7 linked regions of the Homo sapiens genome follow. The protein of the gene in region 5 purifies or fractionates together with the protein of the main gene of each other region. This does not show direct contact. Each region holds a gene or a part of one and is shown on either strand. Other genes may lie near its edges.

Evidence for each region.
Region 1: the proteins of DEPTOR (region 5) and AKAP11 purify together in Homo sapiens (affinity purification with mass spectrometry, with the first as the bait; one large-scale study listed by BioGRID). This does not show direct contact.
Region 2: the proteins of DEPTOR (region 5) and ARF4 purify together in Homo sapiens (affinity purification with mass spectrometry, with the first as the bait; one large-scale study listed by BioGRID). This does not show direct contact.
Region 3: the proteins of DEPTOR (region 5) and KIF2A purify together in Homo sapiens (affinity purification with mass spectrometry, with the first as the bait; one large-scale study listed by BioGRID). This does not show direct contact.
Region 4: the proteins of DEPTOR (region 5) and ERGIC1 purify together in Homo sapiens (affinity purification with mass spectrometry, with the first as the bait; one large-scale study listed by BioGRID). This does not show direct contact.
Region 6: the proteins of DEPTOR (region 5) and OBI1 purify together in Homo sapiens (affinity purification with mass spectrometry, with the first as the bait; one large-scale study listed by BioGRID). This does not show direct contact.
Region 7: the proteins of DEPTOR (region 5) and MYO1C purify together in Homo sapiens (affinity purification with mass spectrometry, with the first as the bait; one large-scale study listed by BioGRID). This does not show direct contact.

Annotation. Positions count from the first base shown.
Region 1 is NC_000013.11:42,306,198-42,310,644, reverse strand, and holds part of AKAP11 (A-kinase anchor protein 11), read right to left. Parts: intron 2,192-4,447; coding exon 2,036-2,191; intron 1-2,035. UniProt on the Homo sapiens protein: Binds to type II regulatory subunits of protein kinase A and anchors/targets them.
Region 2 is NC_000003.12:57,580,070-57,584,516, forward strand, and holds part of ARF4 (ADP-ribosylation factor 4), read right to left. Parts: intron 4,396-4,447; coding exon 4,315-4,395; intron 3,939-4,314; coding exon 3,829-3,938; intron 1-3,828.
Region 3 is NC_000005.10:62,361,321-62,365,767, reverse strand, and holds part of KIF2A (kinesin-like protein KIF2A), read right to left. Parts: coding exon 4,436-4,447; intron 4,303-4,435; coding exon 4,239-4,302; intron 3,319-4,238; coding exon 3,227-3,318; intron 2,591-3,226; coding exon 2,448-2,590; intron 2,074-2,447; coding exon 1,869-2,073; intron 526-1,868; coding exon 415-525; intron 1-414. UniProt on the Homo sapiens protein: Plus end-directed microtubule-dependent motor required for normal brain development. May regulate microtubule dynamics during axonal growth. Required for normal progression through mitosis. Required for normal congress of chromosomes at the metaphase plate.
Region 4 is NC_000005.10:172,927,304-172,931,750, reverse strand, and holds part of ERGIC1 (endoplasmic reticulum-Golgi intermediate compartment protein 1), read right to left. Parts: intron 1-4,447. UniProt on the Homo sapiens protein: Possible role in transport between endoplasmic reticulum and Golgi.
Region 5 is NC_000008.11:119,925,404-119,929,850, forward strand, and holds part of DEPTOR (DEP domain-containing mTOR-interacting protein), read left to right. Parts: intron 1-2,996; coding exon 2,997-3,175; intron 3,176-4,411; coding exon 4,412-4,447. UniProt on the Homo sapiens protein: Negative regulator of the mTORC1 and mTORC2 complexes: inhibits the protein kinase activity of MTOR, thereby inactivating both complexes. DEPTOR inhibits mTORC1 and mTORC2 to induce autophagy.
Region 6 is NC_000013.11:78,614,156-78,618,602, forward strand, and holds the end of OBI1 (ORC ubiquitin ligase 1), read right to left. Parts: intron 3,171-4,447; exon of another isoform or gene 2,968-3,170; coding exon 1,425-2,967; 3' UTR 134-1,424; downstream 1-133. UniProt on the Homo sapiens protein: E3 ubiquitin ligase essential for DNA replication origin activation during S phase.
Region 7 is NC_000017.11:1,474,992-1,479,438, forward strand, and holds part of MYO1C (unconventional myosin-Ic), read right to left. Parts: coding exon 4,440-4,447; intron 3,745-4,439; coding exon 3,625-3,744; intron 3,502-3,624; coding exon 3,419-3,501; intron 3,202-3,418; coding exon 3,096-3,201; intron 2,981-3,095; coding exon 2,900-2,980; intron 2,606-2,899; coding exon 2,514-2,605; intron 42-2,513; coding exon 1-41.

The sequences.
Region 1 (4,447 bases), on a different chromosome or scaffold from region 5:
TCAAGTGATCCACCCCCACCCCCATTGGCTTCCCAGAGTTCTGGGATTACAGGCGTGAATCACCGCGCCCAGCCCAAATCGCCGAAGTCTTTATCTCCTACCTTGATCTCTGTAGCAGAAAAGAACAGTATAGATATCAATTGTCATCAACAGATGCAACATATCTTGTAAATCAATATATTTTCAAGTGAGGTCTCTGAATCACCTGCACTGAAATCATCTGTGATGCTTATCAAGCATGCAGATTCTCAGGACCCTTCACTGACTTCATAAATCTTCATCTCTGGAGGTGAGACCCTGGACACTGTATATGCAACGAGCACACCACCAATCCTGGATGAGCCCCGCTTTTTCTCTGTGCCAGAACCTTAATGCCACGCAGCATTACATTAAGTCACATTACAACTTTGGTCAATGGAAACACAGGTCTTTTTCTGACAAAATGCCATCAAGCCAGGTTTGCTCCCCACTTAAGTTCAAATATTAATCATTAATTTTCTGAGCCTAAATGCATTTATCCATGTTAAACATAATTATTTTAACCTCAGCTTGATTTGGTCTTTTTAACCTTTGTTCTGTTAATGAGATTCTTTTTTCAGCCTGTGTTGAATCATCCACAAATGAGTATTCCACATCATTAATAAATAATGCTAAGGAGGACAGAACCAAGGACAGAAACCGGTAAGACGACTCCTTTTTCTCATCAAATTAGATAATATTCAGCACAGAGTTGTTCAACTGACTACAAGTCCTCTTAATGCTTAAAGCCTCTACCCACACCTCAATCTCCCATTTTAACGCCAGGATTTCCTAGGCAACACTGTCAACCCCACTGAAATCATAGAAGCCTGTGTTTCTCAAAATGAGAGAAGAAACTAAATGTTAGTATCCTTTTCTAGATAAAGTTATAGAAAAGGGCCAAATCATGATTTGTGACATTGCCCCCACTTGCTTCTACCAGTTTTAAACACTGTCTTTTTGGACCTAGATTTTAAGAAATATTGGTGGTTTATATAGCACCATAATAAACTATGACAAAATATACTTTACAAAAATATTAATATTTCCAGGTTAATCCAAGCATCGAACAAAACTCTTCGAGATGAAGTGTTCTATCAGGTGAAAAGCCATTTCCTTTCCTTATGCTACCTCATTCCCTTTTCCAAGAGTTGCCTTCCCTCCCACACCTAGTTTGCCATTTCCAGGGGCTAAGTTCAACTGATGGTCCACAGGTCCTTTCCACACATGCCTGAAACCAGCAATATGCTAAGAACCCTTTCCTCCCTCAAGACTCTGCTACAAATGGTATCTATTATTTCCAGTTATCACTTAATGTGGATAAAGAGTTTATAGAATTTTATAGGTTAGTCAGAAATGCCTTTAGGTAGAGGTTAAGACTATAAGAAACAACTGTCTCATAATTAATAAAATATTTCAAACACCACTGTTATGAACAAAGTTAACTAAGAAAAGTTATATATGAGGTAAGTGCCTTGTGCTATACAAAATCACATTTTTATAATGGCTTTGACTTACGTATTTTCAATCATTCAAGCATAAGTCTTCCAGGTCATTTTGTTCCTAACAGCAGGACAAGCAGGGACCCTCGCCCCACCAAAAAGATACTATTTTAACTAATGTCAGGAAAAGTACAGGGCTACTTTGATGCCTTTTACAGATACCTGTCCTTTTTCTTGTTCTTTAAAGAAAAAAAAGTACCCTTTTTAAAGTGAAAAAAAAAATTTTTCCTCAGAAGTTCATAAAAAGTTTGGGAGAAGCTTAAAAGGCATAAAATTAAATGTATGCAATATTTTTCAAATCAACTATTGGCACACCCCAATAAAATTAGCTGGGCTACTTACTGTATTAAATAAGTGTTAAAAACAATTAGAAATACATTGTGAATAATAAAATACATTTTGAAAGTAATAGCATATTTTCAAATTTAGAATTTTTAAATAATAATGTAAATTTATAGCTCACTTCTAAGATCTGAGGACCTAAACTACACAATTATATGCAAAAGTGTAGTTACCTTTCACTTAGATGATGAAAACTGCTGCTTTCATCTTGGTGTTCATCTTCAAAACTTAAATTGGACCAGCTACCAGTGCTGTCATCACCAATACTGAGGTTCATCTGCTGGCTACTGACAGACTCGGTTGACTGAAAGTCTTCTATTTCTTTTGAACTAAAAAGAAGAAAAAAAGAAAAAAAATCAAATTGAAAGCATCCCAGATTCTGAACTTACAAGACTATCAATTTGATGACAAAGATGATAAAAACAAGAAATGGTATTCGGAATCAGACCAGTGGCTCATGTAATCCTTTATTTGAGTCTGCCAACAAACAGACTGTAGGATAGCGTATTAATTTCAAAGTTAACTGAGGTACCCACCAACAGCCATAACTTACTTTGTTAATCTACAATGGATCTATCCCTAGGGCATTATTTCTCTAAATTCTACTTAAAGCAGTTCATTTTTCAACTGAGATACCATGGGGCAGTACAAGTTCCTAAGTTATCATCTGCTTTGTAAAACAGTACTTTTATTTATGTTAAAGGAGTCTCTTTCTGGCTTTAAGAACAAAAAAGTCGTTCAAGAAATTCTAGTATTGTCAACCAAGCCTGTATTCAAACTAACCAAATCTCTTCAAGATTTTGAACATAGATCATAACCCCTTTCATTTTTCTCAATAAGAGGCATTTATACTTTTATTCCATCATCACAAGAAAGTCCATTCACTGCTCAACTATTTTAATTGTCCCACTACATTTTATGTTCAACAAAGTAGTTCAAAGTGATGTTTCCATAAAAAGAAAAAATGTCAGTCTTCGGATCAAAACCTTCCAATGGCTTCCCACCAAGCCGAAGAGCCCAAATCCTTAAAACATACTGCCTGTCCCCTCTTATAACATCCATCTGAACTCCTACTGTTCTCCCTGGCCCACTCCTCCTATGTTCTCCCTGGCCCACTCCTCCCACTTCAGCAATACAAGCCTCTCTGTTGTTTCCCAAACATGCACAGTCCCACCCCTAGGCCTGGAAATCTGTTCTCGGTGACTCCCACATGACTTATTCTCATTTCACTTTTGGTTTTTGGCTCAAGTATCACTTTGCCAGTATTGTTTCCCCTGCTACCTATCCAAAACTGTAAACCAGCCCTAATGGCCACCGCCACTGTCACCACCAGCACTCTCTAACTCCCTAACTCCCTACCTTGCTTTATTTTTCCCCCAAAGCACTTATCACTATGTGACATACTATATATTTTACTTACCTATTGTCTTATTCCACTATAACATAAGCTCCAAGAGAATGCAGATTTTTGCCTGTTTTACTTACTTCCGTATCCCTAGTGCTATCCTGAGAATAGCCCCTGAATTGCCCCCCATTTTTTCAGCTATTCTAATTTTGTAAGATACAGAATGATACTGAGCATTCCAAGCATAGGCACATTATAGTTCTGAACCATTGATAGATTACTACTTTGTTTTTTTGAATACTTTTCCTAATATGTGCCACATTCTCATGGTTTTTGGCTGAAATGACCCAAAGGATGAGGTCCAGAGAAGAGTTTATAATGACTGTGAGGTTATTTTGGCTCGGAATGATAGCTTAGAATATAATCGTTTTGTTGGCTAAAAATGCACTATCAGCCAGGCACGGTGGCTCATGCTTGCAATCTCAGCACTTTGGGAGGCTAGGGCAGGAGGATTGCTTGAGCTCAGGAATTCAAGATCAGCCTGAGCAACATAGTGAGATCTCATCTCTACAAACAAACAACAACAAACAAAAATGAATAAAAATGTACTATCACATAATTTCCCAATTGCATTCACATGCCACCTCTCTGTTCATTACAGTTTGTGAAATATTTATGGTCATGTTCATGAATCAAACAAAAAGGGACATCAGGTGAAATAATACCTTAAAGAATAATCCATCTGAATGAATCTCCTTTCAAGTTTGAAAGACAAATTTAACTTTAGAAATAAAAAATGTTAAACGTAAACTCTACACACTAGAGTCAGCTTTCCTTAGTCAGTATTTACAGAACCCTAGCACAATTATTAAGAAGAGAAGCAGGAAAATAATTACTCCAGCCTTAATAAAAAGCTGAAATTGGACAGCACTGGCTTACAGGAAGAACTTTAGGGGCTATCTACTCACCCAACTCTAAGAAGGAAAAGTGGAAATTACTGAGAAAATCAATAACAAAGGCATTTGCTAGCCCCTGAGAGTGATGTCTTAAAAACTTTAGAGGACAGTCTCTTTTCTTCCCATGAGGGTGGGAGGAAAGGGGGATGGATGGGTCCGTAGGGCAGACAGGACTGAACTGAGGAGGAGTAAAAAGTAAAATAGCCTGAAGCAACCTGTATGAGGAAAATTATTTCAATTGTAAAAAGGCCTAATTTATTACCTATTCATGAGAATATTTATTA
Region 2 (4,447 bases), on a different chromosome or scaffold from region 5:
ACTCTAGCCTGGGTAACAGAGTGAGACCCCATCTCAAAAACAAAAAATAATGTTTGATGCTTTGGGAGCCAATATAGTGTGGTGGGAAGACAGACTCAAATTCAAATCTTATACTACTTGTTATATATATTATCTAATCCTTGACTATGCCTCGTCTAAATAAAATAAAAATACTAACTTCATAAGCTTGTTAAAGATTAAATGCAATCACAGAGATATAAAAGATCATTGTTCTTGGCTTATCATGGGCATTTATTTAGCAAATATGTCTCCTCCTTTCCATATTTCAAAAGCTACTCCTTTTTAGAACCAAACCTTCCATTTTTTTGTTTCTTCTTTTTTTCAAAAAAGAGGCAAGGTCTCCTTTTGTCCCCCAGGCTGGAGTACAGAGGCGCAACTGTAGCTCACTTCAGCCTCCAACTCCTGTGCTCAGGTGATCCTCCCACCTCAGCCTCTCAAGTAGCTGGGACTACAGGAGTATGCCACCATGCCCAGGTAATTTTTTTTTAATTTTTTTTTGTAGAGACAGGGTTTCACTCTGTTGCCTGGACTGGCCTCAAGTGATCCTCGTATCATGGCCTCCCAAAGTGTTGGTGTTTCAGGCATAAGCCATAGCACCCGGTCCTGAAACCTACCCTTTACAAGAGGTAATGCCCCTAAAAGGGACCTAATTTTATTTTGACTGCTAACTTCCCATTTTTATTCTTTTTTTTTTTTTTTAAATGTAAAGACAGGGTCTCACTATGTTCCCCAGGCTGGCCTCAAACTCCTGAGCTCAAGCGATCCTCCCACCTCAGCCTCCCAAAGTGCTGAGAGTACAGGCATAAGCCACTGCACCCAGCCTTTGTTTTAAAATGCAAATAATGCTATCAGTCCCAAAGTGACATTATTGAGAAGGAGAATTATTTTAGGTATTAATCCCTAATTATTTTCTTCCTGGAACAGCCTAGAATCAAGAGTGAAGAAAAGCTAGGATTCTACAGATAAGCCCAGCTGCTATGAAATTATTTGAAAAGCCAAATATTTACTTATTTACAATGGCAAATTAGTTGGAATTATAAGAGGAATTTACTACACACTGTGCCATGGTTTGTTAGTATAAGTTAGAAACATGGTTAAAGCTATAGTTTCTTTTAAATTTTATAGCTAGGAGAACTGATCAGTAATGCTGGGAATGCAAGCTAAGAGCTTAGCTTTGATTCTATCAGGTAACACATAAAGCTTTCCCCAGCTAGCATGAACTCCCTAGGAAGCAGTACTTAGACTTTTAATTCTCAGATGGTCCAAAGAGGCCAGAATTGGGTCTAATTTCAAATTAAGAATGCAAAGTAAATTACAAAGCATTCTAAACAAATCTAGGGATAAACCCAGGGTTACCCTTGGTCAAGAATTATTAGGCTTAAGGATTAGCAAGGTTTTACTTCATATCTAACTCTTTCAAAATATATTGGCCAAGCGCAGTAGCTCATGCCTGTAATCCCAGCACTTTGGGAAGCCCAGGCAGGTGGATCACATGAGGTCAGGAGATCGAGACCAGCCTGGCTAACATGGTGAAACCCCGTCTCTACTAAAAATACAAAATTAGCCAGGTGTGGTGGCGCATGCCTGAAGTCCCAGCTACTTGGGAGGCTGAGGCAGGAGAATCGCTTGAACCCAGGAGGCAGAGGTTGCAGTGAGCCAAGATTGCGCCATAGCCTGGGTGACAGGACGAGAACTCCATCTCAAAAAAAATAAACAAACTGTCTAGAGGGTAGAGCACATTAGAGATGAGTATGAAACAACACAGCACTGCTTATATCCTAGTAACTGAAGCTGCATAATACATACATGTGAGTTTATTATGCTATTCTATTTGTAGGTGTACAGATTGAGTTTCCTTAATCCAAAAATCCAAATCCAAAACTTCCCGAGCACCAACATAACAAAGAAAAAACTCCCTGGAGTATATCGGATTTTGGATTTCTGGATTTAGAATGCTCAACTGGGTACAATGCAAATATTCCAAAACCCCCAAAATTCTGAGATCAGAAACAGTGGTTTCTGGTCCCAAGAATTTCGGATAAGGAATGTTCACCTTGTATTTAACATTTTCCATAAGGAAGCTTTTTAAAGCATGTGCCTCTGTATCAAGTATCTTTTCTAGTCACAGCTATATTGATGACCATAAACATTCTACTATTTTTTTTTTTTTGAGACAGAGTCTCGCTTTGTCACCCATGCTGGAGTGCAATGGTGTGATCTCGGCTCATCACAACCTCCACCTCCCGGGTTCAAGTGATTCTCCTGCCTCAGCCTCCTGAGTAGCTGGGATCACAGGTGCGCGCCACCACGCCCGGCTAATTTTTGTATTTTTAGTAAAGACGGGGTTTCACTGTGTTGGTCAGGCTGGTCTTGAACTCCTGACCTCGTGATCCGCCCGCCTCAGCCTCCCAAAGTGCTGGGATCACAGGCATGAGCCACCGTGCCTGGCCTAAACATTCTCGTTTTTAAATAAAAAAGTATACCACTTATTTAATATGACATACTATGTAAACCTGGTTGTCCCAGCCACTCACCTAGGGTATTCACTGCCACCTGATGGCAATAAACCCCACTTGTATGCAATGTTTTAAGAGGCTGATAACAAGATGACATTGCAAGTCTTAAAAATATAAAGTGGCAGTGATATCACACTTAAAAAAAATTATTAAGTAATAAAAAAAAACTGACAAGAAATTCCTTGGGTGGTAGAAAACACAATCGAGGTGGGACCAGGTTAAACAAAGGTAGAGTGAGAACAAACTCTCCCATCTTGGGTAAGTCATTCCAAGTTTCAGTTTCCTCATATGTAAGAGAGTTAGATTAGAACAGTGGTTCTCAGCAGGGAGCAATTTTGCCCCCAGGGGATATTTTGCAGGTGTGGAGAGATTTTTGGCTGCTACTTGAGGGCAGCTGCTATTGCCATCTAGTGGGTAGAGGACAAGGATGCCACTAAACAACCTACAATGCATAGAGAGCCCTCCCCATACCCAACAACAAAGAATAACCCAGCCCAAAATGTCAATAGTGCTGTGCTGTAAGATACCAGACCAGTAGTATCAGCACAACCCGAGAACTTGCTAGAAATACAGAATCTCAGGCCTTAGCTAGGACCTATGGACTCAATGTGTATTTTTAACAAATACCCAGGTGATTGATATGCATATTAAAGTTTAAGAAACACTACTGTACCTGGATTATATCCCCTGATATTCTGATTCAAGTCATCTAGGGGATGATCCAGGTCTTGGGATTTTCAAAGGTCCCCATGTGATTCTTACGTGCCACCCCCAAATTTGAGAACTCCTGTTCTACAGGATCACTAAAGTCTCTTCCATGCCAGTATTATATATACATACTATGTGGCAATATAAAAATATCTTACAAATCAATGCAGCGAACTGACTTTACTGTATTTAATAAAGTAAACAAGTAACTGGGCTAAACAAAGGACTATCAATTGTCTTACATTCATCAGAAACTACAATGACAGTTTATACAGACCTTACTTTCTAAACTAAGATGGAAAGCAAAGAACTACGGATAAGAGACCTAATTCATTCTTGTGAACTACACCAGCACCCACCCCATCTTCCAAACACTTACCGCAATTGCTTTACAACTCTTCCACCCTATATAAGTTAGCCTTCAAGGCCTAAGTGAGAGTCCACTGAAGAATGTGGAAGTGGTGATAAGACAAATGCCAACTCATAGTAAACACCAATATCCAAGTAAATACTAGATACTAATAAAAACTTTAGAGCATGAAACCCACAAAGAAAAGTTATAAAAACATACAGTATCCCTTACCTGGGTATTCTGGAAGTAATGCTTCCAGAGAGGCCTAATTCTATCTTGACCACCAACATCCCATACTGTGAAACAAATGTTCTTATATTCTACTGTTTCCACATTAAAACCTACAAAGAAAAACAAAAATGACCGCTGTGCAGCGTCATTAAGAAAATAAAACCTTTTATTGTGGAATTTTCTTAGAATAGTGTTTTTAAAGTACTTCTTTTTATTTTTAAAAAATATATTTAAGCCTAAACATCAACAGAGACAAGGCCTCATTATGTTATGCAGGCTGGTCTTGAACTCCTGGGCTCAAGCAATCCACCCGCCTCGGCCTCCCAAAGTGCTGGGATTACAGGCATGAGCCACCACACCCGGCCTGTTTTAAAAGTACTTCTAAGATAATCAACATGCTTAACAAAAAGACAATCTCAAAACTAGACTGTATATATTTCACTTTACAACATATCATGATATAAAGTCATCTGTAAACTTTCTTACCAATGGTAGGAATGGTGGTGACTATCTCCCCTAACTTCAGTTTATACAGAATGGTTGTCTTGCCAGCAGCATCCAATCCAACTAGAAGAAGACATTATAGATTTAAAATCCAGACCAAAAGCACACTCCAAGA
Region 3 (4,447 bases), on a different chromosome or scaffold from region 5:
CAAGTTTAGTTAAATTTCTGCTATACAAAAAACCAATAATCTTCAGAAGAACATAACAGAATCCAGTCTCTATGTTCATTCATAATGCACATGATATAACCCCAAATTACCAGACATATGACCATAAAGAAAAGTGTGACCTATACTCAAAAAGAAAGAAAGAGAAAGAGAAAAAGAAAAAGAAAAAGAAAATCAAGAAAGACCAGCCCTCAATAACACCTAGATGCTGGAATTATATAACTGCAATATAATCCTCTCTATCAGAGTGGCAGGGACCACATCTTAAATATCACCATATCACTCAAAATAGAAGGATTCAAATAATTGTCACTAACAAATACATTTTCCATAAATATTGTGTAGTTATTCCTTTAGGATTAAAATAAAACAAACAAAAAATAAACATAAACTTACCATGCAGGTACGAGAGTTTTCACCTATGAAAGAATCTCTTAACACCTGAGTGAGTTTACTTGCACGGAAAGGAGTATGAGGTTTATTTCTACCTAAGGCTCTGATGCACTCCTGAAAATTAAGAAAACAAGTCTCACAGATTAGTCTTTCTTATAAAGGATAATCTTAATTAACATATTTTAAAAGGTCTCTTACTACAACTTGAACATTTAAGGGTCTGATCAGTTTTGAAAATTCTACTAACAGTTTTATTTTTTTTTTGAGACAAAGTCTCGCTCTGTCACCCAGGCTGGGGTGTGGTGGCGCAATCTTGGCTCACTACAACCTTTGTCTCCAGGCTTCAGGCGATTCTCCTACCCCAGCCTCCCAAGTAGCTGGGATAACAGGCGCCTGCTACCACGACTGGCTGTTTTTTATTTTTAGTAGAGATGGGGTTTCACCATGCTGACCAGGCTGGTATCGAACTCCTGACCTCAGGGGATCCACCCGCCTCGGCCTCCCAAAGTGCTGGGATTACAGACGTGAGCCACTGCGCCTGGCCAACAGTTTTAAAGCATAGTGTAGATGTTCCCATAAATGCTAATTCAAGAAAATAAAAAATGACAGCAAAAAAACCTACTTTATTCTTCCAACAGATATTTCTGGAAACTATGACTAGTGTTTGAAAGTGACAGGCAGTAGGATAACTGTAAAAAGTTAATTTCTTAACATGGCACTCCAAAAGAAAAAAACACAGAATGCCTTATTTTAGTCTTTCCAACCTTTGGTGTTCTACTCAAGGAAAAGATGTAATAACCTGGCCTAACATTTTGAAAGCCATTCCACATTTTTCTGAGAAACTGTTTCTTAGCTCAATTCAGTGGTTCGTTGCCCTCCTCCTAGAAAATATGACTAATTAAGACCCTCTGGGCCGGGCGCGGTGGCTCACGCCTGTAATCCCAGCACTTTGGAAGGCTGAGGTGGGTAGATCACGAGGTCAGAAGTTCAAGACCAGCCTAGCCAACATGGTGAAACCCCATATCTACTAAAAATACAAAAATTAGCTGGGTGTGGTGGTGCGTGCCTGTAATCCCAGCTCCTGGAGAGGCTGAGGCAGGAGAATGGCTTGAACCCAGGAGGTGGAGGTTGCGGTGAGCCGAGATTGTGTCACTGCACTCCAGCCTGGGCGAAAGAGCAAGACACAGTCTCAAAAAAAAAAAAAACCTCTGGAGTTTACCTATGTAGCCCCAGAACTGACCTACTAACTCACATATCCTTTATCCCATCTAAAAAGAATAAAGAATGTGTGCAAGGAAAAAATCTGGGTATAATAAAATCACACTATACATTACAAGCATCTGAATTTTGAAAACCTCTTTTTATTAGGTAAAACAAGTACTACTATTTTGCAACTGAGTAAAGAAAATTAAAGTCAAAAGTAAAAGACCTTTCATGATAAAATACATTTTATTTACCTTGAGTGCTAAAAGGCTTTTATTAATTTCAGCACCTTCAAGCCTAGTTTGCCTGTCCGCACTGGAAGTATCAGCTCCTCTTTCATTTCCAGCCAAATCAATGAGAGAAAATTTGCCATGTAGTTTTCCTTTCCTTCTAAGAATAATCTGAAACACTGCATGGCTCCGAGATGAATGTGCATTTGCAGATGTTTGACCGGATGTTCTACAATGTGATTAAGGACATCTTGATACATTAAAAACTTCAATTTACATGTTCAAACCACATTATTTTCATTAAAAACAACAGCAGCAAAAACATCGATTTAGCTAGTTTTCATCTTTTAAATACAGATGAGACACTGAGTTATAACACTTAAATAGAACCAGATTCATACAATTTAATCCGGCATATTTCTAATATATTTGTAATGTAGTATCAATATAATAATTGTCACTCACATTTACATGTAACACAAGTTTTTATGAACAATGATTTTTACTTCCAAGATGTATTGATAGATAACATCCTCATTTTGTTATACTGTACCCAAAGTTTCTAAAACTGATGTTTCCTTTCTTAATCAAAATGAGATTTACCTGCAACTGTTGCCTATGTCAATGAGTTTCAGTACATCTTCAACACATTTGACCTCCCGTTCCTGTAATCCCACCACTTGAACCTGCTGTTTTCCATCTTCTAGAACTCTTAATTTTGTTTTCCTGTTTAGCAAGTCAAACACCTATGAAAAACCATATTCAAATTAGAAAACTAGCTTTAAAGTAAAAAACAGGCTAGGTGCAATGGCTCACGCCTGTAATCCCAGCATTTTGGGAGGCTGAGGCAGGAGGATGGCTTGAGCTCAGGAGTTCAAAACCAGCCTGGGCAACATAGTGAGACCTTGTCTCTGCTAAAAATAAAACAAATTAGCTGGGCATGGTGGTGCATGCCTATAGTCGCAGCTACTAGGAAAGCTGAGGCGGGAAGCTCACTTGAGCTCAGGAGATTGAAGCTACAGTTAGCTGTGATCATGCCACTGCACTCCAGCATGGGTGACACAGCGAGATCCTGTGGCAATTAAAATATCAGTTCTATAAAAATGAGTCACCCAGAGTTTAAGAATTATTTCAGAGATTAAAATAATAATTGGAATAAGAATTCTCAACACTGAAGTTGAAAAGTTTCAAAGGACTTTTTAAAAAAATCTCATAACATAAATTCTAATATAAAAGTTCTAAATACACATAAATTATGGTGGTAAACGCTGCACAACAATGTGAATATATTTAATGCCACTGAACTTAAAAATGGTTAAAATGGCAAATGTTATGTTATATATATATTTTAAAAAATTAAAATTAAAAAAGTTCCCACTTACCTTTCCACTATAAATTTCAAAGAAGGTTGCATATACTTGAAGTTCTAGCTTCTTATAGTTTGGCTTCTTTAGCATTAAAAAGACATCTCGAGCTGTCAAAAATTTCATATACAGAAAATTGAGATCCAACAAATATTTTTAAAAAGCAACTCAAATTTTCTATTTCTAGAGGAATCAGTTACTCTTTACCTAGGATAACAGTATCAATAATAAAAATGAGAAAGTGAATATTAATTTTACAAAAAATAGTATTAATAGAAGCTATTCTCTTTCATATGCCATAAAAGGGTGCTACTTTTATTTATATATATTAATATTTATATTTATAAATAGCATAAAATTATAGGTGGTCATAATGAGGTTATTCTTATACCATAGCTAGTAGCTTTTTACAGTTCAGAAATTCAACAATTGAGACTCATCTCCAACAATGTGCTAGAATGCACTGACAAATATAATCAAGATTTCTGCCCCCTCAAAATCAATCTTACAGTTCTTTTTTTTTTTTTTGAGATGGGGTCTTGGTCTGTTGCCCAGGCTGAAGTGTAGTGGCATGATCTTGGCTCACTGCAACCTCTGCTTCCTGGGTTCAAATGATCAAACAATTCTGCCTCAGCCTCCTGAGTAGCTGGGATTACAGGCGCCCGCCACCACGCCTGGCTAAGTTTTTTTTTGTATTTTTAGTAGAGATGGAGTTTCACCATGTTGGCCAGGCTGGTCTCGAACTCCTGACCTCAAGTGATCCACCCACCTTGGCCTCCCAAAGTGCAGGGATTACAGGCATGAACCACCACACCCAGCCTACAGTTCTTGTCTTCTTAAAAAAAAAAAAAATTATTGTGAATATATAATCTTATAGTTCTTTTCAAGCAATCTAATAACCTATAATTGACATAATAGACAGTTAATATAGCATTATAGTTGCTGAACAATATTTTAAAGCCTTATTTCAAAGTTACCTGAATAATACCACAGAAGAATATTCCAAATTTTATGGAAAAAGGACAGTTACCTGCTAATGCATAAATTCCTTTAGAACAATCTTGGTTCTTTCCTGAAAAGTCACCACCCATAGTCTATATTTTAAAAAGAAAATAAAGAACAGACATTACTCAGGAATAACTCTTAAGAATTTAGTTCACAGAATTAAGCTATAAGGAAAAGAAACTGTAGCTTCGTACCAGAATGTAACTTTAATAAATTACTTACATGAGTTTTTCC
Region 4 (4,447 bases), on a different chromosome or scaffold from region 5:
TGTAAATATATAGGAGAATTATCTGGAAAGATGCCCAAGGAACCACGGGCAGCTTTAGCTTCTGGGGAGGAAGGCAGGATTTGAGAAAGATCCCATTTCATTGTACATCCTCTGACATTGTCTGAATAGTTTTACTTTTAAAACAAACTAGGTTTCAGTATTAAAAAGAAAAGAGCCTATCAACCAGAAAAACTGCACCAATGAAGCACTGATGAACTGAGAATGGGGAAAGAAATCAACGGCAGATCAGTTCTTCCTGGATGGGGGAGCTGCTGAAGGCAGGGATGGAGCCTTACTCAACTCTGTGTCCCCAGAGCCCCGTGCAGGGCCTGGTACCAAGTGGACCGTGGCAAATGCTTACTGAATGAATGAACGGATGGAAGGATGATTGGACAGGGGCATGAATGAAAGCACAGATGAATCAGCTGCTGATAAGCGTGAGGTAACTGGAATCCAATGCTGGGCTGATAGAATGCTGGCCCAGAGCTGCCAAATATCACTCAGGAAAGGTATGAACTCTCCTGGGCCTTCTGGGATGCTTACAGGAAGCTCATGGGCCTTCCACAATCTCGGGTCACGGACTACAGAGCTAAAATAACACAGAAATTTAGGCCTGTGGGTTCTAAGCCTGGTCGCAGAGTCGAGTCAGTCCTCTTCTGTAAGAAGGCTGGGAATGCAGACAGCATTCACTGCCCTGACACTCCCTCCCTGCCCCTTCCTGCCAAAGCCATATCTCAGTAAGCAAAGGAAGTGCTTCTTGAATTGTTTTGAGTAGGTTCCTCTGAAAACCCGAGAAAAGTCCTGCAGCCGCAGAGCCCAGTCCATGAAGACTCCAACATCCCTCTGTTCAACCCTGTAATGGTTCTCAGATGTCAGAAGCAGTCGAATCATTTGGAATAAAAAGACACCTGGACCTCTTTCCAGGAGCATCCCGCCAAATGGGTCAAGGGTGGAGCTCAGAATTTGCATTTTTAAAACAAGAGCCCAAGACCACGCTTGATAGTGGTGTCCAAACGCCCATTGCCCTAGGTTAAAAACTTGAAGGAATGAAAAAGTGAATGCCTTATCAAAATCACCCCTGTAATATTTCTTGTTAAAATTTGTACAAGGCCGGATGTGGTGGCTCACGCCTGTAATCCCAGCACTTAGGGAGGCCGAGGTGGGAGGATCACTTGAGGTGAGGAGTTCAAGACCAACCTGGCCAACATGGTGAAACCCCATCTCTACTAAAAATACAAAAATTAGCCAAGCCTGGTGGCACACACCTGTAGTCCCGGCTACTAGGGAGGCTGAGGCAGGAGAATCGCTTGAACCCGGGAGGTGGAGGTTGCAGTGAGCTGCCACTGCACTCCAGCCTGGGCAACAGAGCGAGACTCCATCTCAAAAAAAAAAAAATTGTACAAAACACAGGTGATCACCAAGGACAAAACAAAAAATCACCATAAATTCACCATCCTCAGAAAACTATGGTTCACAGTCTCACATATAAACTGCCAGACATGTTTATACATATATTTGTATTTTCCTAAAATAGGACCATACCGTATCTTTTTTTTTTTTTTTGAAACGGAGTTTCACTCTGTCACCCAGGCTGGAGTGCAGTGGCACGATCTCGGCTCACTGCAACCTCCACCCTCTGGGTTCAAGTGATTCTCCTTCCTCAGCCTCCTGAGTAGCTGGGACTACAGGCGCCTGCCACCACGCCTGGCTAATTTTTTGTATTTTTAGTAGAGATGGGGGTTTCACCATCTTGGCCAGGCTGGTCTTGAACTCCTGACCTCGTGATCCACCCGACTTGGCCTCCCAAAGTGCTGGGATTACAGGCGTTAGCCACCGCGCCCAGCCATCTTTTTCTAAGAACTGAACATCATGATCAACTTTTCAGGTCTAAGACACAGAACATAAGCTCTGCAGAGTTTGTTTTATTCATCTCTCTATCCCCAGAACCTAGCCCAATGCCCAGCATATAGTAGGTGCTCAATAAATCTTTGCTGCCTGACTGCCAGTAAGGTCCTGACACACCTCGCTCATCTTGGGCAGTTACCATGCTCAGTCAACCCCCTATGGCTGGACACTGACGTGGTTCCTCATTTTCAATTTTATAAACAATGACCTAATGAACATTATTTTCCTAGATTTTTGTACACTCTCTTAATTATTTCCTTAGCTTACTCTCCTATGAGTACAATTGATGACTCAAAGGCAATGACCATTTTTAAGGCCTTTGATACAATTTGCCAAATGCCCACTGGAGACACTGCAGTTAATTACACCCATGTGGATTCCTTGTGAGCTGACCATTCCTAGAGACTGCTGGCTCCAACCTGGTCTAGGCCAGCCCACATTCCCTTCAAGCTCACTCCTCCTCCCCTACCCGCAAAATCTTCTTACAGAAAAATTCAAACCTAAAACATAGGGAATTGTATAATGGACTCCCACGTACCCATTTCCCAACTTCAGCAATTACCAGCGTATGGCCAATCTTGTTTCATCCCTATCCCGCCACTGGAGTGGGGCCCAGAATCTGCATTCTTAAAACCAGCAGCCCATATATATGTATGTGTGTGTATACTTATATACACACACACACACACACATATATATATATGACAGCCCATATTATGTGTATACATATACATGACAAGCTGGTTTCATTCCAGTTATATCATTCAGGACCAGTTAAACAATTCAGTACCACAATACAAGATACAATTTGATATAGGAAAGTTTCTCCTTAGATTCTGCCCTAGGGGATCTCGTTCCTGAAGTTAGCTGCTGACGATAATGAAGAGAACGGCCAACATTTATTGAGCACTCACAATGTGGCAGGCCGTGTACTAAACTCTGTACACGCATCTCATTAATCCTCATAGCAAGGCTTAAGGTGGAGAGGATTCTTCCCACTTTACACATGCAGAAACTGAGGCTTAGCAGAGTTAAATGACTTTCCCAAGACCACAGGGCTGGGAAAGAGTGGAGGGGGACACTGGAGGCCGAGGTCCTCATGACCGCACTCCACCACCATCTGGCAGGAGCTCTTCCATAGTGGCCTCCAGGCCTCTTATCATCGATCATATACCTACTATACCCTGGGTACAGGGCTGGGTCCTGGGGACAAAGCAGTGGGCAAGGCAGAGTGCCATGTTATAGCTGGCGCAACAGCCAAGGGCAGCAGATGACTGGGAGAACAAGGTGATTTCAGAGAGTGGTCTATGCTAGGAAGAAAAAACAGGTTTGTCCTTAGGAGTGAGGGTTACTTTAGATAGGGTGACCAGTGAGGGCTTCTTGGAGACGGTGGCGTTTGAACTGAGACCTTAATGCCAAGAAACAACCCCCATAGCAAGACCTGGGCACAGAGGGACCTACAAAGGCAACGGCCCAGTGCCAGGGACTGAGCTTGGGAGCTGAGGAAATAAAAGCCAGCCCTTCCCCAGCTGTCCATTGCTTGATCTCATGCTTTTTTCTCTCCACTTGAGCCAGCCTGAGATAGCTTTCGCCACTAGCCCTGGAGAAGGCAAGGTTTTCTGTCCACACCCTCTCTCTGCTTGCACACTCTGGGCCTTCTTAGCTTGATCCTCTTTCCTGTCCAGCAGCTGAGGGTCCATCGTAGCTGCAGACATTTGTGGACGGCCGACGTCGGATGACATGTTACCATGACACAAAACGACAATGACCACGGCACCACACCAAGAATCATCTACCTCTATTACAACCAGACATTTGCACTCAAATAAGGAGGTGCTGCCGTATACTTATCCGTTGCTGGAGGCAGCATGAATGGGAACCAGACACAGCTGGAAAGCAATCGGGTAACAGAGCGCCAACCCTGTACATATCAGAGGCATTATTGCCACAGTGAAACACAGGAAACGACAGACACTTTCGGTGAGAAGACAATGACTTAGAAAAGCAGAGCAGAGTGGGGACAGATCACCTGAGGTCAGGAGTTCAAGACCAGCCTGGCCAACGTGGTGAAACCCTGTCTCAACTAAAAATACAGAAAATTAGCTGGGCATTGTGGCAGGCACCTGTAATCCCAGCTGCTCGGGAGACTGAGACAGGAGAATTGCTTGAACCCGGGAGGCTGAGGTTGCAGTGAGCCGAGACTGTGCCACTGCACTCCAGCCTGGGTGACACAGTAAGACTCCGTCTCAAAAAAAAAAAAAAAAAAGCACAGCAGAGCTGCAAGATGGACAACTGTGCTCCCATTACAACTGGAAAGTAAGAAAATCGTGGCTATGTAATAAGGTCAAGTACAAAAAGCAGACGGTAAACTGCAATCCATGCCTTGGAAAAAAAGAAAAGTGAGTTCTGCTTATGGACAAGGACTCACAGGGACACAGAAAAATGAGGTTCGATTTGTCGGGGGGGCAGGTCACAGAGGGATGTTTTCTTTGCCTTGGATCCCTGACAATGGGAGAGCAAACGCATTTCAGGAAATAATAAG
Region 5 (4,447 bases):
GAAAATAATAAAAACAACAACAACGAGAACAACAACAAAAAAAACCCATCAGATCTTGAGATTTATTCATTACCACGCGAACAGTATGGGGAAAACTGCCCCATGATTCAATTATCTCCACCTGGCCCTGCCCTTGACACATGGGGATTATTACAATTCAAGGTGAAATTTGGGTGGGGACACAGTCAAACCATATCAGCCCCAGTGTCTATTGTTGCCTGTTTACTTTTTGTTTTTTTGACACAGAGTTTTGCTCTGTTGCCCAGGCTGGAGTGCAGTTGTGCAATCTCAGCTCACTGCAACCTCTGCCTCCCAGGTTCAAGCAATTCTCCTGCCTCAGCCTCCTTAGTAGCTGGGATTACAGGCATGCACCACCGTGCCTGGCTAATTTTTGTATTTGCAGTAGAGACGGGGTTTCACCATGTTGGCCAGGCTGGTCTCGAGCTCCCGACCTCAAGTGATCCACCTGCCTTGGCCTCCCAAAGTGCTGGGATTACAGGCGTGAGCCACCATGCCCGGCCTGTTGTTTCCTTCTTGATGTCTATGTGTTCACAATGTTTAGCTCCCTTTTAGAAGAGAGAACATGTGGTATTGGTTTTCTGTTCCAGCATTAATTTGATTAGGATGCCAATTAAAAACATTTATGTAGTTAGGGTTTCTTTTTCTTTGTCTGGCTACTTCTGTTTGCTGTTTTTTTAAAAAATTATTTTCCTTAATAGAAGAAAGGGAGATTCTGTGCTCCGATTTCACTCCACCAGCTTTACCAATTTATAATCTTTACAGTTCCCATTTCCTACCTGGTCCCTGGCAAATGAAGCCTAGTCTGGCTCCAAGCACATGGGTTGAAGTATCTTCTGGAATACTCAGATAAACATGATGATTCAGGTGCTCTAAAAAAATCACACAACTAGCTTTCCCTAGAAGAGGAAGCCCTAAGGACTCAAAGTGTCTTCTGGCATCAGTGTAGTTTCCTTTCTTTTTTAGCATAAAACATTAATCCTAATGTACTAACCTTCAAGGTTAATAAAATATATCCCCCATAAGGTTGTCAGAAAATGCAGAGTGCCCTCTAAAATTTGAATTATAGATACAGTATAATAAATTGTTTTTTTAAAGTATAAGTAGGTCCCATGCAATATTTGGGTCAAGCTTTTACTACACAATGGTTTGCTGTTTATCTGAAATTCAAATTTAACTGGGTTTCCTGTCTGGTTTTTCCTTACTAAACCTGGCAGCCCTACTCTATCACCACCATCTTATGAGAATGTTTTCTGGGTCTACTGGATACCTCTCCTTTAGTATTTTCCTGATATCACTGATATCCTCATCTCTGTTACTAGTGGATTCATTGCTATGTCCTTTCCTTAGCCAATCCTATAGTATGACTTGACTCTTAAGTTTTAGATAATAAATATTTGCAGATGGTAGAACATTGTACAGTAAATAAGCATCATTAACATTCATTCCCAATTATTTAGCACTCAGCCAAAGAGCAGTAATAAAGCACATAAGATAGCCTTTGAGTGACCAAAATAGATGTCATAAATTCCATGCCCAAAATGCTCATTTTCTTTCTTCGTAGATGTTCATATCAGGCTTTTGCTCAAAATATTTTAAATCCTAAATACTGACTACTTAGCAGACCATGGCAGAAGAGAAACAGCAGATTAGGGGAACTGCTTGAGTTTAGGAACAAGGACAACATATGCATATCACAGCAGGACAGGGAAAGGAGATAGGAGAATGAGAAACAGACCCTATGAAGTTCTGGAACCACTGGGTGCAGAGTACAGAGCTCTGGCCGTTTACGTGGTCTCTGAAGGCACCACTGTGGCAACATTCCGTGCCATGGAGCCACAAGCTAGCATTCAGCTCGAGGGTGTATTGGGACAATATTGGTATTAGTAACAGATACCTGAATAAACTCACTAAAGCACAGGGAATGTATCGATTCATGTAATTTAAACCCAGGTTAGGTGGCTTCATGAACTGTTGAATTCAGGTGCTCAAATAGAGTTGTTTGTAATCTCTCTGTCTCTCTCTTTTGTCTCTATCCCTTTATCTCTATCTATCTGGTCCACTTTGCTCTGTGTTGTATTTCTTTCTAGGCAGATTCTTCCTTTATGATGGCAAGATTGGCTAGTAGTAGCTCAAGACACATATATACATATATATATACATATATATTATATATATATAAATATATATATTATATATATTTTAAGACGGAGTTTCACTCTCGTTGCCTAGGCTGGAGTGCAATGGCACGATCTCAGCTCACTGCAACCTCCACCTCCCAGGTTCAAGCGATTCTCCTGCCTCAGCCTCTTGAGTAGCTGGGATTACAGGCACCTGCTACCACACCTGGCTAATTTTTGTATTTTTAGTAGAGATGGGTTTTCACTGTTGGCCAGTGTGGTCTCAAACTCCTGACCTCAAGTGATCCTCCTGCCTCAGCATCCCAAAGTGCTGGGATTACAGATATGAGCCACCACACCCTGATGTATGTCTGTAGTGCCTAGAAGTACCTAACAGGCAGGTAGTAGACATTCATTAATATTTTTTATATGAATGAATGACTACAAGTAGGGTGGGCCCTGAACAATTTGTGATAAAGAGGGTGCACTTTGTTTCAGTGCATTTCTAGGGTTTTTGTTTGCTGGTTGAAACAATAACCCCACTGGAGAGAGAAAAAGCAGGGAGTGAGGCAGAGTAGGGGATGGAGAGCTTTTCTCACTCTCAGGAGTGGCAGGAGGGTTCTGGGTTGGCTGTGATTGTTTCACCCTCATATTTACCTCTGTCATCTAGATCAGAGGCTGGAGTCACTTTCTGGAGCCTTTGAACTCTGACAGTATGGAAATCACCAAGCGAGCTAAAGATATTCAATGACACCTTCATGCCTTTAGAACTTCTGTTATGTTATTACTGTCTGGGATTGGTTTAATAATTTGTGCTGTCATCAGAATTTCCAAAGTAATTGCTAATTTTTCTTTCAGGCTCAGGCTGCACGAAGAAAAGGTTATTAAAGATAGACGTCATCATCTCAAGACCTACCCAAACTGTTTTGTCGCAAAAGAACTGATTGACTGGCTGATTGAACACAAAGAGGCTTCTGACAGAGAGACGGCAATTAAACTCATGCAGAAATTAGCAGACCGGGGCATTATTCACCATGGTGAGTGCGGTGGCGAGTCAAGGTGACTTGAGAGAAATGGAAGGACTAGATCTTTTCATGAACATACCCACTTAAGAAAGAAAACATTTTGCTTTATTTTATCTCCAGTGTACCTCTCCCTGATTGCATTTTCTTCCTGCCTCTAAGAGGCATTTGGGTTCTTTCTTTTTTTTTTTTTTTTTTTGTATTTTTAGTAGAGACCGGGTTTCACCCTGTTGGTCAGGCTGGTCTCGAACTCCTGACTTTGGGTGATCTGCCCGCCTCAGCCCCCCAAAGTGCTGGGATTACAGGCGTGAGCCACTGTGTCCAGCTGGCATTTGGGTTATTTCTATGTACTGCTTTATACCTGTCTGTATATACATCTTTAAGGAATGCATCATATTGTTTTAAAAGTTTTCTATCATTATAGAAGTGCATATTTATGCTTTTGCAACTTGATCAACACACTGTGAGCTTCATCCACATTGATAGTATATGTCTTATTTGTTATTTTTGCTGTTGTATAATACATATGTATAATTATGCCACTATACATTTTTCAGTGGGCATTTACATGGTTTCCAAGTTTTTGCTGTTACTCTCAGTGGGTTCAATGAAGATTCACCAACATGTCTTCTTGAAATCTCTCATCCTGGCCTCGACCTTTGCACATGCCATCGTTCTCTTGGAATACCCTTTCGCCTCATTTTTTGCCCAATTTCGATTCATTCTTCAGGTCTCCACTTACATGAAAACTCTTCAGGGAAGCTTTCTTTTTCAAAAGCTGTGTCACTGTGTTCCTGGGGCACTGGGTACTCTTCCTTTGGGCTCCCATTGCACTCTCTCCTTACCTCTGTAGCCTTATCACACCATATTTCAATTACAGTTGACATTTCTCCTTACCTCACTAGATTTCACATTCTTTGAGGCTGATGCATGCCCCAATATGCTTTAGAAGAATTTGTGGATTGCATGATGAATTGAATTGTGTGAACTTCCTAAATATGATGATGATGATGATGATGATGATGACTATGGTGATGGTGATGGTGATAATAATAGCTAAAAATACTGAGGACTTACTCTGTACCAAGTACTATGTAACTATTTTACAAGTATTAGCTCATATGGTACATATTTGCATGCATGAAGAATGTGATAGTGAAATAATTCTTAATTAGCATCATACTTCGCTTGAGTAATTAAATAAGAGCGATTTTTTTTCTCATTTGCTTCTCTGTGCATATTGTGTTTCAGTGTGTGATGAGCATAAGGAATTCAAGGATGTCAAAC
Region 6 (4,447 bases), on a different chromosome or scaffold from region 5:
GATCGCGCCACTGCACTCCAGCCTAGGCGACAAGATTGAGACTCCGTCTCAAAAAAAAAAAAAAGTAGTTTTTCCTGGTCTTTATAGGCTAATTCAATATACGAGACAAAGAATCATCATCGACATCAAGGAACACAGTGCTTATGACATTCTTTATTCAATTCACATAGAAAAGCATGCAGTATTAATGTAAAACAGTACAATATTAATGTAAAATGTTCAGTGCACATTAAACAGCATACATACCCATTTTTAAAGACCTATATAGGCATACCAAATACGTTTAGAACAATACACTTTTTCAGAGCCTAAATTAAAAATTGTGCTTACCTCTTACCTATCTTCACCCCCTCAACACTCTTCACAGAAAAGTTTTGTCCTACATAAAAGATATTCTATCAGCCAACTGAAACCTCTTTTTCTTAAGTATGGAAAACACAGCAAGCAAAAATGCTACCATGCATAGTTTCCACAAAGAACAGGAACATGCAAACAAGAAACATACTACTCAAAAGAAAACTCCCCTGGAATGCAAGTGGATCAAGAACTTGGCGATGAGCTCTTTCAAACCTGTTACATCTGGAACAATGAAGCTATGATGTTTTAGGTTCCTCTAAACCCAAGTGCTCCATGCCTTCTTTCCATAGTATGCTAAATTTCTGATTTTACACACATACACACACACGCAGAGGAGAAAATGTAAGCTACCTAACATAAAACAAATGTCTTCATATAGAAAATGTTTTCTTTCATACTAGCAGAACATTTTCACAAAACTGGACAAAACACAATGCTAAAAAATGCAAACATATACATAAAACCTAAAAAAAGAAAGTAAATCAATATTGGACTAAGGCTAGAGTGCTATTTCTCCATCATGGCCCTGCAGAAAAACTAGGCCATCACTAAACATAAATAAAAAGGGACAGGTAAAATAATTTCCACCCTGGGAAAAGCTTAAACTCAAGTGTCTTATTGAGCAGTGTATAGACAACACTAAAAGTTTTATTTAAGAAATCCAAGTTCTGAAGACAAGTGGGGCTTATCAACAGGCCACTGTATCTAACAGTTAAATAACATTTTTTAAAAAAACAATGTATATCCAACCGAGATACATATCAAATTCAGTAAAAAAACAAAACCAAAAACAAAACCAACCAACCAACCAACCCCAAAACACAAAAATAACCTCCTCCCTAACTTCTCTGGTCACAAAGACTCCCAAATAAAAATGAAAAGAACAAAGTCTTTTCAAAATGAACAATAAGTATTCTGGGTACAGGTTAATCCACCATCCTGACTTGATACTTGACTAAAGATTATCAATTCCAATTTGTATAGAACTTTTATGAGGAAAAAAGGTAACTTTAACAACTTTTCTATTTCTCTCAGGACAAAACCACAAATGACACCTTTCTAATGAGTCAACTTTTAGTTGCTTTTGATGGGCTGGCACTGGAAAGGCTGCTCTGGATTTTTCTTTTTGTTGATTGATTCACATTTTTATTCCTCTTTTCAGGCACAAAGGAAGTAGACCAAGGAGACTGAAGGTGGTTATGAAGACTGTGCATCTCTGAGGACATCTTAAACAAAGATGACCCAAATCTTTGATCTTCAAATAGTCGATGTGAACTGCTTAACAAAATGCCCTGGGAAAACTCTGTCTGAAACAAGCAGCTTGGGGGTTTGATTTCATTAGTTACTGGACAAGAACTGGAATGGAGTGAAAAATCTTCATTCATTTCTTGGTCAGATGGAGAGAGGAGAAAAAAAGAAGTGGGTTTCCATTCACTTCCATTTTCTAACTGATCATTAGTTAGAGAACCTTTGGAAAGGTTTAGCTCAGTTTTTTCTTCCAACTTATCAGGTTCCTCAAGAAATTCACTGCCTTGAGATGACTTTGATAACCCATCCAAATCCAGTGACTTAAAACCGTTATTACAAGGGCTCTTGCTGTTGTCTGACTCTGACATCATTGAATCCAACTCAGAGATTTTGTCAAGGTAAGCAGCATCCATCGATGCTTCACTGGATGTTCTTGTCCGGTTCATTTCAAAAGAGCGAATAGAATTCAACCTTTTGGATAAACATAAGCCTGATTTCTCACTCAATTTTGAAGATATTTCTCCAACAGAATTTGCTATCGTGTTCCCCTCTGAACTTTCAAAATCTAAGTTTTGGGCATAGCTTGTGGAACAACAGTCCCAAAATCCTGTCTTTGGGGAAGAAAAACATTCTGATTTCTTTTCATTTTCACTTCTACTTATATCATCTTCTGAAGAATCTTTATTAGAAACATTTGAAGAATCACAAAAATCATCAAACACCAATTTTCTGAGATGGTTTGAGTGCTTTTTGGAACCTCCTGCTTGGACCACAGAGCTCTCTCTATTTTCTGGAGTACTGAGCTGAAGGCAACTAAGGGACAAAGGAGTACAAGGAGCTGGAAGATCATAAAGTTCTTCATCTTTGTAGGGTACACAGTCACTTGGTTTATTCCCCCATTCTCTTTCCAAATAAGTATCCATACTTGTATCTGTCACATCTAACATTACTTCTACCTGTTCTTGATATAGGTCTTTGTTCTTAGAACAGTTAAGGTCTGCTTTGCTGGTACTTTCCTGCCTTGCAGAACTGGTGTCACACAGTCTGCTGCTGGAAGGCTTCGCTAGGTGAGAAGAACTGGAGGTGGATGAGCCAGGCTGCTTTCTGGCACTATCGCCTTGATTCTTTGACACCACATCCTCCTCACTGCCTTTGCTCCCTTTGCCATCTGCAGAAAGTGCTGTCTGGCAAATGGAATTCATAGCTTCTTTCTCTTCACTTGAATTTTTTAGCTGTGCAACTTGAGATTCTAGTTCCTCTATATACTTATCACTTCGTTCCAGGGCTTTCTTGAGGCGATTGGTTTCACGCTCATACTGTTCTACTTTGGACTGAAGAGCAGCAACTGCAAACCTTCCAAACCTACAAAGAATGGAAAGATAGTTAATCTTATAACTCAAGCTTTTTTCTTTTCAAGGTTTGAGAGTGCAAACTGTCCCAGGCTATTCTAATTTCACCTAACAGTGACATTTCAGACCACTCAATGAGTAGGGCAAATGCCAGATGTATATTTTCAAAAAATGGTTTCCCCACTTACATAATAATAAACATATGATAATAATAGCAAAACCTAATAGGATATTTTTGTGGTTAAATCAGATCTATGGTAGCAGAGAGGCAGAAATGTGCTGATGATTTCCCCTCGAAGAGCTGGCTGTATCAATTCAGCTCATATATGCATGAAGAGTTATCCCCTAAAACAATGGCAAAGATTTATGATAACATTTGAACAGTGGTCTACATCTTGAAATATTTACATTCAATCATTTTCCTATCATACAGCAGTGTTTTACAATACATTTCTTATATAATGTCACCTTGTCAAACATAAAATGCCAATTTGAAATTCAGAAATCTTAGCAGTCCCAGGAGGGGTGGTTTTAAATACTTATTTGGGCCCTTTCAATTATAGCCACCCTTGATCTGAAGCTTTTCTGTGGCTTTTCAGAGCACTGGCCTTTAATTTATGTCAGCACTACTTATTTTTGGCATTTTACAGCTGTGTGGGACATCTATCTCATTTCTTTCAACTTTGAAATATGAAGTCAGTGCTTGTGATTCCAATATACTAGGCAAAAAAAAAAATTTTTTTGTACACTTTCTGAAAGAGAACATTTTGGAGAGTGACTGAAAAAGAATTCCCTTATTCACAAAAAGTCTACTCCTTTTACACCGGGATTATCTTGCTGTTATTTCCACCAAGAATGAGTACTGTGTTAAGCTCAGGAAACAATTTTTGAGTACCTAGTATAGGTTAGGTGGTATATTTGGGGCTGGGAACACAAAAGATAAAAAAGACTGTCTAGCTCCAAGGGACATAAAATATCTACCTTAAATTCAATCTTATCACCAAAAATAAATTCTATCTTTCAGGAAACTTATGAGCCAATAAATAACATAATCCCGTGAAAAATACCTTATCTCCTCCAAAATTCTTTTCAAAGCCTATTCTTAATCATCTTTTTGATGATTTATATATTGGCCCATTTCTAAGAATTAAGGGATTGTCTGTTTGGAGGAAGCTATGAGAAGGTGACTTTCAAAAATTATTTTTATCTTTGGGTTTATCTTTTTCTTCCTTTTTTCCCCTAATTTGAAAAATAATTACAATTAAGAACATGTATTTAGTATTGAAAAAAAAAACTACAAAAAAAGCAGAAGCCAATAGCAATTGCCCCTCTTAGAATCAACCACAACATGTTTTCAACTCCCACTTAATGCCCATCACCTCCTAAACCACTAGCCCAATTCATTCCCCATCTCAACCCCTACATAATCCCTGCACTCTTATCACTGAAGGAAAAAGCAGAGGCAAAGGTAAATATAGAATCATAAAATCTCA
Region 7 (4,447 bases), on a different chromosome or scaffold from region 5:
GGCCCAGAGATTTCCTGGTCCGCTGGTCAGCCAGCTTGTGCCTGGGGGTGACAGGGAGGAAGCTGCAGATGGCTGCCGGCCTGAGCCAAGCCCTCTGCCTGCTGAAAGGGCCTCAGGAGCAGGAACCAGCTGCCCAGGTGCACCCCAGGCCGGGCACAGTGGCTCACGGCTGTAATCCCAGCAGTTGGGGAGGCCGAGGTGGGTAGATCACAAAGTCAGTACTTCGAGACCAGCTTGGTCAATATGGTGAAACCCCATCTCTACCAAAAATACAAAAATTAGCCAGGCGTGGTGGTGGGCGCCTGTAGTCCCAGCTACTCAGGAGGCTGACAAAGGAGAATCGCTTGAACCTGGGAGGCAGAGGTTGCAGTGAGCCGAGATGGTGCCACTACACTCCAAAAAAAAAAGAGCAGGTGCACCCCCAGGGCTGGGTCACTGAGGCAGGCCAGGCAGGGCCAGTGGCCTCCCTGATCAGAGCGGACCATGGAGGCTCAGAGAGGTAGATGGCCTTGGCCAGGGCCACACAGTGCCAGGACCGGGACCTGGGCCTCCTGACGGCCAGGGTACGCTGCAGGGAGGGAAACTCTCGTTGCTTCGGCCGCTGCGGGCTCTGCTCAGAAGGGGTGGTGAGCTGCGCACTACTTTTCAGAATGGAATCTGCTGCCCCAAGAGAGCACTTAAGTCTTAGGCGTGTTTATACCCTTTCACCCATTTGCTTTTAAGAACTATTTCAAGCAGCTAACCAGAGACACGGACAAAGATTGAAGGCACGGAGATGTTTGTGGCAGCCTTGTGATTCCAGCAGAAACCTGGGAGGCTGGCCAGGGGCCCCGAAGGGCTGGGTGAGAGAGGGGAGTATCTGTGGGTCAGAACCGCTCCAGGAAGTGTTCTGAGGAAAATGTTGTTTGATGATACGGGAAAATGTGCAGGATATTTACCCTGAGCCTTATACACAAGTTCTCGACTACGAAAAAAAATGCATAGAAAAAGGCAGGAGGGAAATGCCTCACACAGTTAACAGCCATGGCCTTTGGGCGACGGGATCACAGGTGGCTTTTGCGCACATTCCAACTTTGCTGTAATAAGCAATATTATTTTTATAATCAGGAACAAGTTTTTAGTATTTATTATTTAATGAATCAGGCAGCCCCTAAACCCGAATAGATTCAGAGAGACTCCTAGAAACAAGTCTTTTTTTTTTTTTTGAGACGGAGTCTCACTCTGTCATCCAGGCTGGAGTGCAGTGGCACCATCTCAGCTCACTGCAAGCTCCGCCCCCCAGGTTCAAGCAATTCTCCTAGCTCCCAAGTAGCTGGAATTATAGGTGCCCACTACCACGCCTGACTAATTTTTGTAGTTTTAATAGAGATAGGGTTTCACCATGTTGGCCAGGCTGGTCTTGAATTCCTGACCTCAGGTGATCTCTGCCCACCTAGGCCTCCCACAGTGTCGGGATGACAGGCGTGAGCCACCACGCCCATCCAGAAACAAATTTTCAATATATTATTATGCAAAAAATACTCATGGCTTTGGCATTCAACAGCCCTGGCACTGACCCCAGCTCGGCAACCCAGATGAGAGCTAATTTTGGGGAAATGACTTCGCCTCTTGGAGTCTCAGTGAGAAAACACCAAGAACCCCTCAAGGAGCAGCTGCAGGTGAAGCGACGACATGCACAGCATGCATCAGACCGCGCTGGACAGAGGCGCTTGTTCCTGTTTCTACCTCTCCCCACTTCAGAGGATTCCTTCAATAAAAATCAATTTCCAAACAAGGAAGATGAAAAATCTTAGCAAGTTTCATTCTCAAACAAGAAGAAGGAGGAAGCCAGGCTACTAGTGTCTTGTTTTTTGTTTTTTTTTTTGGGGTTGAAGTCTCACTCTGTCGCTCAGGCTGGAGGGCAGTGGTGCGATCTCGGCTCACTGCAACCTGCACCTCCCGGGTTCGAGCGATTCTCCCGCCTCAGCCTCCCGAGTAGCTGGGATTATAGGCACCTGCCACCACACCCAGCGAATTTTTGCATTTTTAGTAGAGACTGGGTTTCACCATGTTGCCCAGGCTCGTTTTGAACTCCTAACCTAAGGTGATCCACCCGCCTCAGCCTCCCAAAGTGCTAGGATTACAGGCGTGAGCCACTGCACCTGGCCTTCTTTCTCTTTTTTAAAAAATTCATTATTTATTTTTTTCCCTTTTTTTTTTTTTTTGAGACGGAGTCTCGCTCTTGTCACCCAGGCTGGAGTGCAGTGGGTTGATCCTAGCTCACTGCAACCTCAAAACTCCAGGGCTCAAGTGATGCTCTTGCCCCAGCCTTCTGCATAGATGGGACTCCAGGCGTGTCAGCATGCCTGGCTAAGCTTCTTAGTTTCTGGACACATGTGAGGGGTCCTTAACTCAGCACCGTCCCTGGTCACCTCCTTGTGGCTGGTGTTTTGTGATGGCGGAGGGACTCCTGCACTCCGCAGGCTCTGCTGCAAGTGAGCCCTTGCCCCCAGCAGCCCCGCAGCCCCACTCACGTCAGGAAGTGTGGATGGTGCTTGACAGTATCCTCCAGCTTCTCCAGGAAGGTCAGGTCTGTGGCCTCCCCGGGGCGCAGACACTCCTCATCCTGGGGGGTGTGGCACAGGGGGAAGGACGTATGGGGGACAGGTCAGAGCGCACAGAGGATTGGGGTCACCGTGCTGGGAGGCACAGACACAGGGGAGGGGCAGATCACAGGGAGTCTCCACAGAGAGCTTCCAACTGGGGCGGCACCTCCCTCCATCCTCCATTCACAGCTCTGCCCTGTCTCTACTCAGCCCCAAACTCTGGCCCTCCGTGGACCAGCCTGGAGAGAACGGAGAAGGGGGACATCCTCCCACCCAGCCTCCAGCACCAGGCCTTGGAGGCGCAGAGGACTCACCAAAATCGAGATGATGCCCTTAAACTTCTCCTCCACCAGATCACAGATGATTTTGTTGTTGAAATACTGGACGGGCTCCCACTGAGGGGCAGAAGGGAAGGAAGGGATCACCGTGGGGTCCTGGCACCCTCTCCCAGGGGCCCCGATACCCAGGCTCCCCGTGGCCCACGGAGAGTGCCCCCAGGCTAGCACACACCGCGATGCCCTCTGCCTCGTACTCCTCCTGCTCCGACTTGAGCGTGAGCTCGATGAAGAGCTGCTGCAGCTTCTCGTTGCAGTAATTGATGCAGAACTGCTCAAAGCTGTAAGGAAGGAGAAGAGCCCACAGTGGCTCAGTGGGGACACAGGACCAGGAGAGGGGAAAAGCTGGACGACGCCCCTGAGCACAGGAGGTGAGAAACACAGAGACAGTCCCCGGCTGGCTGGGGAGTCACAGGGCAGGAATGAGAGGCTGGAGGACAGAAGAGAGGGAGCAGGACAGGAGACCGGGAGGAGAGACGGGGGAAAGATGGCACCGACCTGTTATGCTGAAACACTTCAAAGCCATAAATATCCAGGAGCCCGAGAACCGTGGTGCTCCGCCAGCTGGGGCTCTCCACGTCCTAGGGCAGTCATTCAACCGAAGGCGTGGGCCCCCTGCGCGTGCCAGCCCCACCCTGCAGCACCCCCCGCCTCGCCGACGGCCCTCCCTTCTGCCTTGGGAGCAGTGTGGACCGAGCCCTCACCTTGGAGGCCAGCGACCTGTTGATCTTCCCGACGAGCCAGGTAAAAGTGCGGCTGTACACAGCCTTGGCGAGGGCGTCTCGTGCGTACGCGGCCTGCTCCAGGTTCAGCGGGCTCAGGAGCTGTGGACGCAGCGTGAGACAAGGAGATGAATGCCACAGAGCCTGTGCATCCCACCTGCTCCCAGGCTCAGGCAGACCAGGAAGCCGCCACCACTCTGCACTCCCAGCTCCAGCAAGCCTGCAGTATGGGGAGGGGTGCTGGTAGTGGGACCTCAGGGAGGACAGGTGGCCACCCCAGAGGGAAGGTGGTAGAGGGACAGGAGGCCTCCTTCCCGAGGTGGGAGTCTGGTTCTAGCCGGACTGTTACTCTCTTCCTATGTGACCCTGGCCAGCTCACTGTGCTGCTTCTTTTTTTTGAGACAGAGTCTAGCTCTGTTGCCGTGATCTCGGCTCACTGCAACCTCCACCTCCCGGGTTCAAGCGATTCTCCTGCCTCAGCCTCCCGAGTAGCTGGGATTACAGGCGCCCGCCACCATGCCCGGCTAATTTTTGTATTCTTAGTAGATGGGGTTTCACCATGTTGGCCAAGATGGTCTCGAACTCCTGACCTCAGGTGACCTGCCCACCTCAGCCTCCCCAAGTGCTGGGGTTACAGGCGTGAGCCACGGCGCTCGGCTCTCACTCTGCTTCTCTGAGCAGCCTTCCTTCCATCCCTCCAGCATTGCTGAGGGAACCAGGCGAAGGGGAGTGATGGGAGTAGGGGCTGCCTTGGAACAGCTGCCCCTCCACACCCGAGGGCAAGGGCCCGGCCTCACCTCCTCCC